Regions from separate parts of the Homo sapiens genome. Here region 2 is linked to region 1. The links come from fine-mapping of genetic effects on gene expression. Tissue or cell type: whole blood. Region 1 holds a variant in brackets; the other region holds the start of a gene. All regions are shown on one strand. Distances are from middle to middle.

The links. PIP is the estimated chance that this variant, and not a neighbour inherited with it, causes the effect.
Region 2: it holds the start of BMAL2, and the variant in region 1 is fine-mapped to the expression of BMAL2 in whole blood (TOPMed, PIP 0.94).

Annotation. Positions count from the first base shown.
Region 1 is chr12:27,402,748-27,407,121 of GRCh38, forward strand. It overlaps BMAL2 (basic helix-loop-helix ARNT like 2), which reads left to right. Exons shown (of 17, transcript NM_020183.6): 14 at 686-794. The region is part of intron 1 of BMAL2-AS1 (BMAL2 antisense RNA 1); the gene reads right to left. Among named protein-coding and RNA genes, the nearest start is that of BMAL2-AS1, 42 kb to the right of the region's middle. The variant C/T (reference allele first, on the strand shown) is at 2,359.
Region 2 is chr12:27,330,339-27,334,712 of GRCh38, forward strand. BMAL2 (basic helix-loop-helix ARNT like 2) reads left to right here and starts at 2,498. Exons shown (of 17, transcript NM_020183.6): 1 at 2,498-2,765. The coding sequence starts at 2,735. LOC124902906 (a long non-coding RNA gene) reads right to left here and starts at 2,459. Exons shown (of 2, transcript XR_007063255.1): 1 at 2,284-2,459. RefSeq lists silencers at 2,382-2,851, 2,872-2,991.

The sequences.
Region 1 (4,374 bases):
TGTCCTGGAGAGGGGAAAATTTGAAGGTGAAATTAAAAGTAGTTCTGCAGGTTGGGTTATAGGAATCCCAACTTTGGTTTAGAAGAGACTAAATTCAACGGGAAATAGATATCCCATTTAAACTCCCAGAGGTATCACCATGTCCCCCTCAAAATTCCCACAGTGCTTTGCTCACTTTTCTGTTATAATCTTGCATTATACTGCAATTAGTTGTTCATTCAACTTGCTTTCCAGTAGACAGTTCTTTAAGGCAGGAATGATGTTTTATCCATTTTTCAGCCCTAGCAGCTAACATTGTTCCTTGTCAATTGTGACACTCTTGGACAAATTAACGAAAAGTATTGGGGGAGTTTTTGCTTATCTGTGTGAGTTTTTCACCACAGGAATATATTAATGTATTATTTGTAAAAATAAAAATCTTAGGAAACATTGAAGTAGTATTGCTGTGGAGATTAAAGTGGCAAGAGACTGGAGTCAAGGGTTACTAGTCACAATTGTGCCCTCAGTGACTCTACACATTTGATTCAAAGAGCATCATGAATTACATATGTAATGCAAGGATGAGTGTTTTCCAACTTTTTTGGATGCAGCTAGTCTGTTTCTTTTAAGGAGAGAACTGTGAAATTATTTGAATTGAAAGAAAGATAAAGTCCTCAACTGAATTTCTCCTTTTGCTGTTACTTAGAATCCTCTAGACAGTCCTGTATGAGTGTACCTGGAATGTCTACTGGAACAGTACTTGGTGCTGGTAGTATTGGAACAGATATTGCAAATGAAATTCTGGATTTACAGAGGTAATGTTTTATTGCTGCAAATATTTTCAAAAGTAAAAATATCATATTTATAAAATCAATATACAAAAATCAGTAGCCTTCCTATATACAAATGATAACCAGTTTAATATAATGGAAAATATTATCTTTACAGTAGCAACAAAAAGATATAAATTTTATAAGAAATATTCATACCAACATGAAAAAAAACTTTAAAATTCACAAAGATATATAAAAAGATAACTCATATAACTTCAGATATAAGCTGTTTTTCAACAGGAAGGCAGAATTGTAAGAATTGTCCTGTTCCTTAAACTAGCCTGTGAATTTAATGTGGATCTAGTCAAAATACCACCGTGTGGCCAGGCATGGTGGGTCATGCCTGTAATCCTAGCACTTGGGGAGGCCGAGGCAGATGGATTGCTTGAGTCTAGAAATTTGAGACAAGCCTGGGCAACATGGCAAAACCTCATCTCTACAAAAAAAAAAAAATTAGCTGGATGTGGTGGTGCACGCCTATAGTCCCAGCTACTTGGGAGGCTAAGGTGGGAGGATCACTAGAGTGGGGTGGAGGGAGAGGGGCTGGTGGGGCAGTGTCAAGGCTGTAGTCAGCTGTGATCCTGCCACTTACTCCAGTCTAGGCAAAAGAGCAAGACCCTGTCTCAAAAAAAAAAAAAAAAAAATACCACCATGCATTTTTTTTTTTTGGAATCCAACAGATTATACTAATCACATTAAAATATCTAGAAATTTATGAAAAATAATAGTAATAAAGTGAGACTAATGCTGTCAGATATTAAAATACGTTATAAAGCTACAACCACTAAAACATTTTAGTGCAACCCACAAATAGATCAATGTAAAAGATTATATTTCAGAAATACAATCAAATGCACATGCAAATTTATTATATGGTAAAAATTAAAAATGACACCTTAAATCAGTAGGTAGAAATGAATTAAACATTAAAGGGCATTATGATAACTGTATAACCATTTGGGGAAAAAATAAAGCTAGACTCCAACTTTATTCTTTACACTAAAATAAATTACAGATAAATCAGAGTTCAAAGTAGAACTATAAAACTAAAGCTTTTCGGGTGGAGCCAAGATGGCCGAATAGGAACAGCTCCAGTCTACAGCTCCCAGCATGAGCGACACAGAAGACGGGTGCTTTCTGCATTTCCAGCTGAGGTACTGGGTTCATCTCACTGGGGATTGTTGGACAGTGGGTGCAGGACAGTGGGTGCAGCGCACCAAGCGTGAGCCGAAGCAGGGTGAGGCATCGCCTCACCCGGAAAGCGCAAGGGGTCAGGGAATTCCCTTTCCTAGTCAAAGGGGTGACAGATGGGCACCTGGAAAATCGGGTCACTCCCACCCTAACACTGCACTTTTCCAATGGTCTTAGCAAGCAGCACACCAGGAGATTATATCCCATGCCTGGCTCGGAGGGTCCTACACCCACGGAGCCTCGCTCATTGCTAGCACAGCAGTCTGAGATCAAACTGCAAGGCGGCAGCGAGGCTGGGGGAGGGGTGCCCACCATTGCCGAGGCTTGAGTAGGTAAACAAAGCAGCCGGGAAGCT[C/T]GAACTGGTTGGAGCCCACCGCAGCTCAAGGAAGCCTGCCTGCCTCTGTAGACTCCATCTCTGGGGGCAGGGCATAGCCAAACAAAAGGCAGCAGAAAACTCTGCAGACTTAAATGTCCCTGTCTGACAGCTTGGAAGACAGTAGTGGTTCTCCCAGCACACAGCTGGAGATCTGAGAATGGACAGACTGCCTCCTCAAGTGGGTCCCTGACCCCTGAGTAGCCTAACTGGGAGGCACCCCCCAGTAGGGGAAGACTGACACCTCACACGGCCAGGTACTCCTCTGAGACAAAACTTCCAGAGGAACGATCAGGCAGCAACAATTGCTGTTCACCAATATCCGCTGTTCTGCAGCCTCCGCTGCTGATACCCAGGCAAACAAGGTCTGGAGTGGACCTTCAGCAAACTCCAACACACCTGCAGCTGAGGGTCCTGACTGTTAGAGGGAAAACTAACAAACAGAAAGGACATCCACACCAAAACTCCATCTGTACGTCACCATCATCAAAGACCAAAGGTAGATAAAACCACAAAGATGGGGAAAAAACAGAGCAGAAAAACTGGAAACTCTAAAAATCAGAGCGCCTTTCCTCCTTCAAAGGAACGCAGCTCCTTACCAGCAATGGAACAAAGCTGGACAGAGAATGAGTTTGATGAGAGAAGAAGGCTTCAGATGATCAAACTACTCCGAGCTAAAGGAGGAAGTTTGAACCCATGGCAAAGAAGTTAAAAACCTTGAAAAAAAAATTAGATGAATGGCTAACAAGAATAACCAATGCAGAGAAGTCCTTAAAGGACCTGATGGAGCTGAAAACAACGGCATGAGAACTACATGACGAATGCAAAGCCTCAGTAGCCAATTCGATCAACTGGAAGAAAGGGTATCAGTGATGCAAGATCAAATGAATGAAATGAAGTGAGAAGAGACGTTTAGAGAAAAGAGAATAAAAAGAAACAAACAAAGCCTCCAAGAAATATGGGACTATGTGAAAAGACCAAATCTACGTCTGATTGGTGTACCTGAAAGTGACGGGGAGGATGGAACCAAGTTGGAAAACACTCTGCAGGATATTATCCAGGAGAACTTCCCCAATCTAGCAAGGCAGGCCAACATTCAGATTCAGGAAATACAGAGAACGCCACAAAGATACTCCTCGAGAAGAGCAACTCTAAGACACATAATTGTCAGATTCACCAAAGTTGAAATGAAGGAAAAAATGTTAAGGGCAGCCAGAGAGAAAGGTCAGGTTACCCACAAAGGGAAGCCCATCAGACTAACAGCTGATCTCTCAGCAGAAACTCTACAGGCCAGAAGAGAGTGGGGGCCAATATTCAACATTGTTAAAGAAAAGAATTTTCAACCCAGAAGTTCATATCCAGCCAAACTTAAGCTTCATAAGTGAAAGAGGAATAAAATACTTTACAGACAAGCAAATGCTGAGAAATTTTGTCACCACCAGGACTGCCTTACAAGAGCTCCTGAAGGAAGCACTAAACATGGAAAGGAACAACCAGTACCAGCCACTGCAAAAACATGCCAAATTGTAAACCATTGAGGCTAGGAAGAAACTGCATCAGCTAACGAGCAAAATAACCAGCTAATATCATAATGACAGGATCAAATTCCCACATAACAATATTAACCTTAAATGTAAATGGGCTAAATGCTCCAATTAAAAGACACAGACTGGCAAATTGTATAAAGAGTCAAGACCCATCAGTGTGCTGTATTCAGGAGACCCATCTCATGTGCAGAGACAAACATAGGCTCACAATAAAGGGATGGAGGAAGATCTACCAAGCAAATGGAAAACAAAAAAAGGCAGGGGTTGCAATCCTAATCTCTGATAAAACAGACTTTAAACCAATAAAGATCAAAAGAGACAAAGAAGGCCATTACATAATGGTAAAGGGATCAATTCAACAAGAAGAGCTAACTACCCTAAATATATATGCACCCAATACTGGAGCACCCAGATTCATAAAGCAAGTCCTTAGAGACCTACAAAGAGACTT
Region 2 (4,374 bases), 72 kb before region 1:
CCTCCCGAGTAGCTGGGATTACAGGTGCCCGCCACCACACCCAGCTAATTTTTTGTATATTTAGTAGAGACGGGGTTTCACCGTGTGAGCTAGGACGGTCTGCACATCCTGACCTCGTGATCCGCCTGCCGTGGCCTCCCAAAGTGCTGAGATTACAGGCGTGAGCCACCATGCCCGGCCTATGTAATGTTTTTTTTTTATTTACCATCTTTACCATTTTAAGTGTACAGTTCCCAATGGTAATAAATATATGTTCAGCCTTCTTTTCCCCTTGTTGTTTTCCACCCCCTCTTCTCTCCCCTTCCTGGCTTCTGTGTTATTTATTGTTATGCATCATTGGAAATAGTATCTTCAATTTAATTACACTCTGAAGCAGGTGTGGTTTTTTGTTGTTTTGGGTTTGGGTTCTATCTTGTTGTTTTTTGTTGTTGTTGTTGTTGTTGTTGTTGTTCTTGGACCAAATACAATATCTAAGTGGCTTTAGGGACTCCTCTCTAATCTAAGTTATATTGTTACAATCCCAGCAGAATGCTAAAAGGACAGGAGTTTACAGCTTGTGAGGCCGTGGTTCCTAATTCCAGATGGACAAAGGAGTATTTGTTCCACCTTTAAAATATTTGTTCTTGCCTGAGTACTTAGCAATGAAAGAAAATTAATGAACAAATTAAGTGAAAGGCAAGCAATGATTCCTGGAGAGCAAGGCAGCTCCAGGGCTTTTGGCAGGGGAACCATGCTGACCAGAAGGAACTGTGTGCATTCTATTACACAAATTCTCTAGCATTCTATTATACAAATCATCCAATCACCTTTCTCACATTTTTTTTTCCAAGTTGAAAATATGAGAAAACCACTCACTGGAAATGAGAGATTACCTTCCTATCCATCTGGCAAGACATTATATGTCTCTCTGCCTTATCCTATGGGTTATATAGCTACTCTTTAAAAAACAAAAAAATCATGTCTTAGAAAGTAAAGCTCCAGAGCATAAAGAAAAAAAGAGAGCAAGCAGGCTTTAAACCTGAGCAGTAAGGGGAATACCTATTAAGCAATGAAAGGGTTGTGCCCCATGGAATGCTGTAGGTCGGCTTTGTTTGTGCATTATTACCCTTCCTGCTTTCGTATTTTAGATTCTGGATTCCCCTTCTCTTGCTTTCAGGCTTTGGTGGAAGTGAATCATCGTTTCTAAGAAACGGGGACTGCAATGATTCACAGGCAAGCTTACTGGACACCACAATAGGAACTCCTAAGAAGGAGACCTAACTTTTATGGTCTTGCTTCTACTATCTACTAGCTGAGTGATCCTGGCCAAAATACTCGACATCTCTGAACTTCTGTTTCTCTACTAAGACAGGAATTAAGAAAGAGGTTGTGAGGCTCACTGAGCCGATAAGGGGGAAAATGCATTGTAAGCAAGGCCATGTATAGAATAGTATTTACATTTTAACCCAGATCTTAAAGCCCAGGTCTAATTAATTCTACCTGTTACCCCTTGGTAAACCACCTCAAAATAGTGTACACTTGTCTGGAAAGCCAAGGTTTGATCACATTCGGGAAACCCTGTATGGAATTACTGTTTCTAGCTGCCAGGAGAAGTTGGTGTTGGTAGAATTTGGGGTGGAGTTCCAAGTCAAAGCTAGGAATGAGACGTTTCAAGACTGGTTTTGATTAGGGATGTGTCTTGGTGTGTGTTGAGGACAGCACAGTTTTCAGCACGTCTCCCTTACCTCTAAAGTCCTAGCCCCTGCTTAAGCCTGCAACAGTTTTCTCCTGTCATGCCCACTTCTGCTTGGGAACACACTTCCAAACCCTCTGCCCAGCCTCTCACAATGGCCCTAAGTACTGCCCTGAGGACACATAAGGTGCTGGTTAAGACGTTGGAATTGAGTCCTTGTAGGAAAGTTATTACCTTTAGGCTGGTTGCAAAGTTTGATTTGGTGTCTTCTCTACTGTGACTTTCCTTTACTTACTTCTACTAGATTACCAAGGAATGGGTCTAGGGACCAGTGGGAGGGCAGCAAACCAGTGTATTCTAGACACGTGGCCATAGGATGTAGGGCTGTCAAGTGATGCCCAAAAGATCTTGTTTCTGGATTTACCCAACCGTTCCAGGAGGCAAAACGGCTTCCTCGGGACCCTCTCTCTGTCATCTACACTCTCGTCTCTGCAGCTAAGCCCTTCCTTAAGCAGAAAAGAGCAGGGTCTCTCGTCCAGCACCCTCCTCCCCAACCCTAGCCCCGTGCCCTCCGCTAACCCACCGTGCAATTATCTTCATTCATCCTTTACCTTTGCCCCGAGGGTCTAACAACTGCAATCTTCGGAATGCTGGGACAAAGCTTACTATGAGCATGGAAGCCTGTTTTCAATAGGGTGGTTGCTAGAAGGACTCAACTGGCCTTTTAGTGCTTTGCTGCTCGCGGGAGGGCTCGGCGGGGCGGTGTCCGCAGCGACTCCGCCCTTGGCCCGGGTCTCTTTCCCGCCGGGAAGCCCCGCGGCGCCCAGAGCGGCGGGCGGCTGGCTCCAGTCCGCATGCTCAGTAGCTGCTGCCGGCCGGGCTGCGGGGCGGCGTCCCGTGCGCGCCTACGGGCTGCGGTGGCGGCCGCCGCGGCACCCGGCAGGGCCCGCCAGTCCCCGCTTCCCTGCTCCAGAGCCGCCGCCTGGGCCGGGGCAGGGCGGGCCCGGGGCTCCTCCATGCTGCCAGCCGCGGGGCTGCGGAGCCGACCAAGTGGCTCCTGCGATGGCGGCGGAAGAGGAGGCTGCGGCGGGAGGTGAGGTTGCCGGTGGCGAGGCGACGGCCCCAGGTGGGCGCGCGGCGTCTGACGCGCTGGGGGCGTCCCCGCGACGCCAGGTCTGCCCCCGCTGCCCCGAGGGAAGCGCCCGCGCCTGTCCTCTCGGGCCGGAGCATCGCCTCCGAGGGGCGGTGGGACAAGGCCGCCCCGTGGGGCACAGGTGCGGCGCGGCGCCCGGCGCGTCCTCCCGGGGAGCGGGACGCGGGGAGGGGAGCTGGGGTCGCCGCCGGCGCTCAGGACGCGGTGTCTTGGTCCCGGGCCGGGCGCATTGGCGAAAGGGAGCCAGCGGGGGACCTTGCACCCGGCGCTGGGAGCATCCGCCTCCACCCACTGCTGGGCGCCCGCGTCGGCGTCGGCATGGCATGCACTGCTGCGGGGACTTCCTATATTTCTTCTTTCTTTTGTGTAAACCAGTTGTCAGCAGCCTCGGACCTAGCCCGGTTCCTGTGAACCCCTCCCCTCTGAGCTGATAATACTCGCGGCTTCCCGGCTTGAACCGCTGCCCCGCGGTGGAGCGCGCAGGTGGGCAGGTGCGCGTGGACGCGGGGCCACACTCCGGGATCGCAGCCCGCTCCGCGACAGCCCTCCATAAGCGACAGGCGGCTCGTGTCTTTCACCGCTGAAGCTTCAGGAAAGCCGTCAGTGGAGTTAGCTTGTTCGATTATGTATTTCTGTGGTATTTTTGTGAATGGAGTTGGAAGTTTGCGGTGCTTTTTCCTTCTCGCTAGTATTCACTGGCAGTATTCTGTAGTTCCTTACAACGGGGCCTTTGGGACCACTGCTCACAATTACGGAATGAATACAAAATAGCTGTTGTTTAAGACAAATGAGAGGCAGGAAAACAGAAATAACTGAAGGAAGACTGGCAGAGAAGTTCAGGGAAGCAGTTAATTCTCCCCTTTCCTTTTGGAATAAGATGATAGAGTTTTAGATTCTTCTCTGAAATAAGGCAATGAGAGGAGGTGGCTTTCGAAATTCTAATATAATTGTGGGAATTTACATCATGGGGCGATTTCAGAAATTCGATCATTTGAATATTCGTAGTCTTAGGTAAACCCTTTGTTGAAAATAGAAGATGGCACGTGTGGTGTTTATAAGCTCTGACACCCTTTCTGCTCCGTCTTGTGACTGAGCTCTGCCCTTTACTGTCTGTGTCACCCAGGTTATTTGAAATCTCTTAGTCTAAGTTCCCCCATCTGTAAAATGGAGATAACTATGCAGTCTGCCTTATAGGATTGTTAGGAGTAAATGAGATATGAGATATGAATGCAAATAAAATGCTTAGCCCAATACTTAGGAAATAGTAAGTGCTTCATAAAACATTAACTTAATGTAGTTATTAATTTACAACTTCAATTTGCTTTGTGAAATTGGTGAGTGCTGTCTGGTCCATTAAGAAAGTGTTGTCCCTTGTGAGTTAAAATTGGCCAAACTGAAAGGAAGTGAAAATGCACCTACTAATTCAAAGAAAATGCACCTACTAATTCCCCAGATAAGTCTTACGAACTTACAACAAGCTTTTAGATAAAGTTTAATGCTATTTATCTAACTATTTTAGATTAATAGTTTATTGCTCTTTGCATACCAA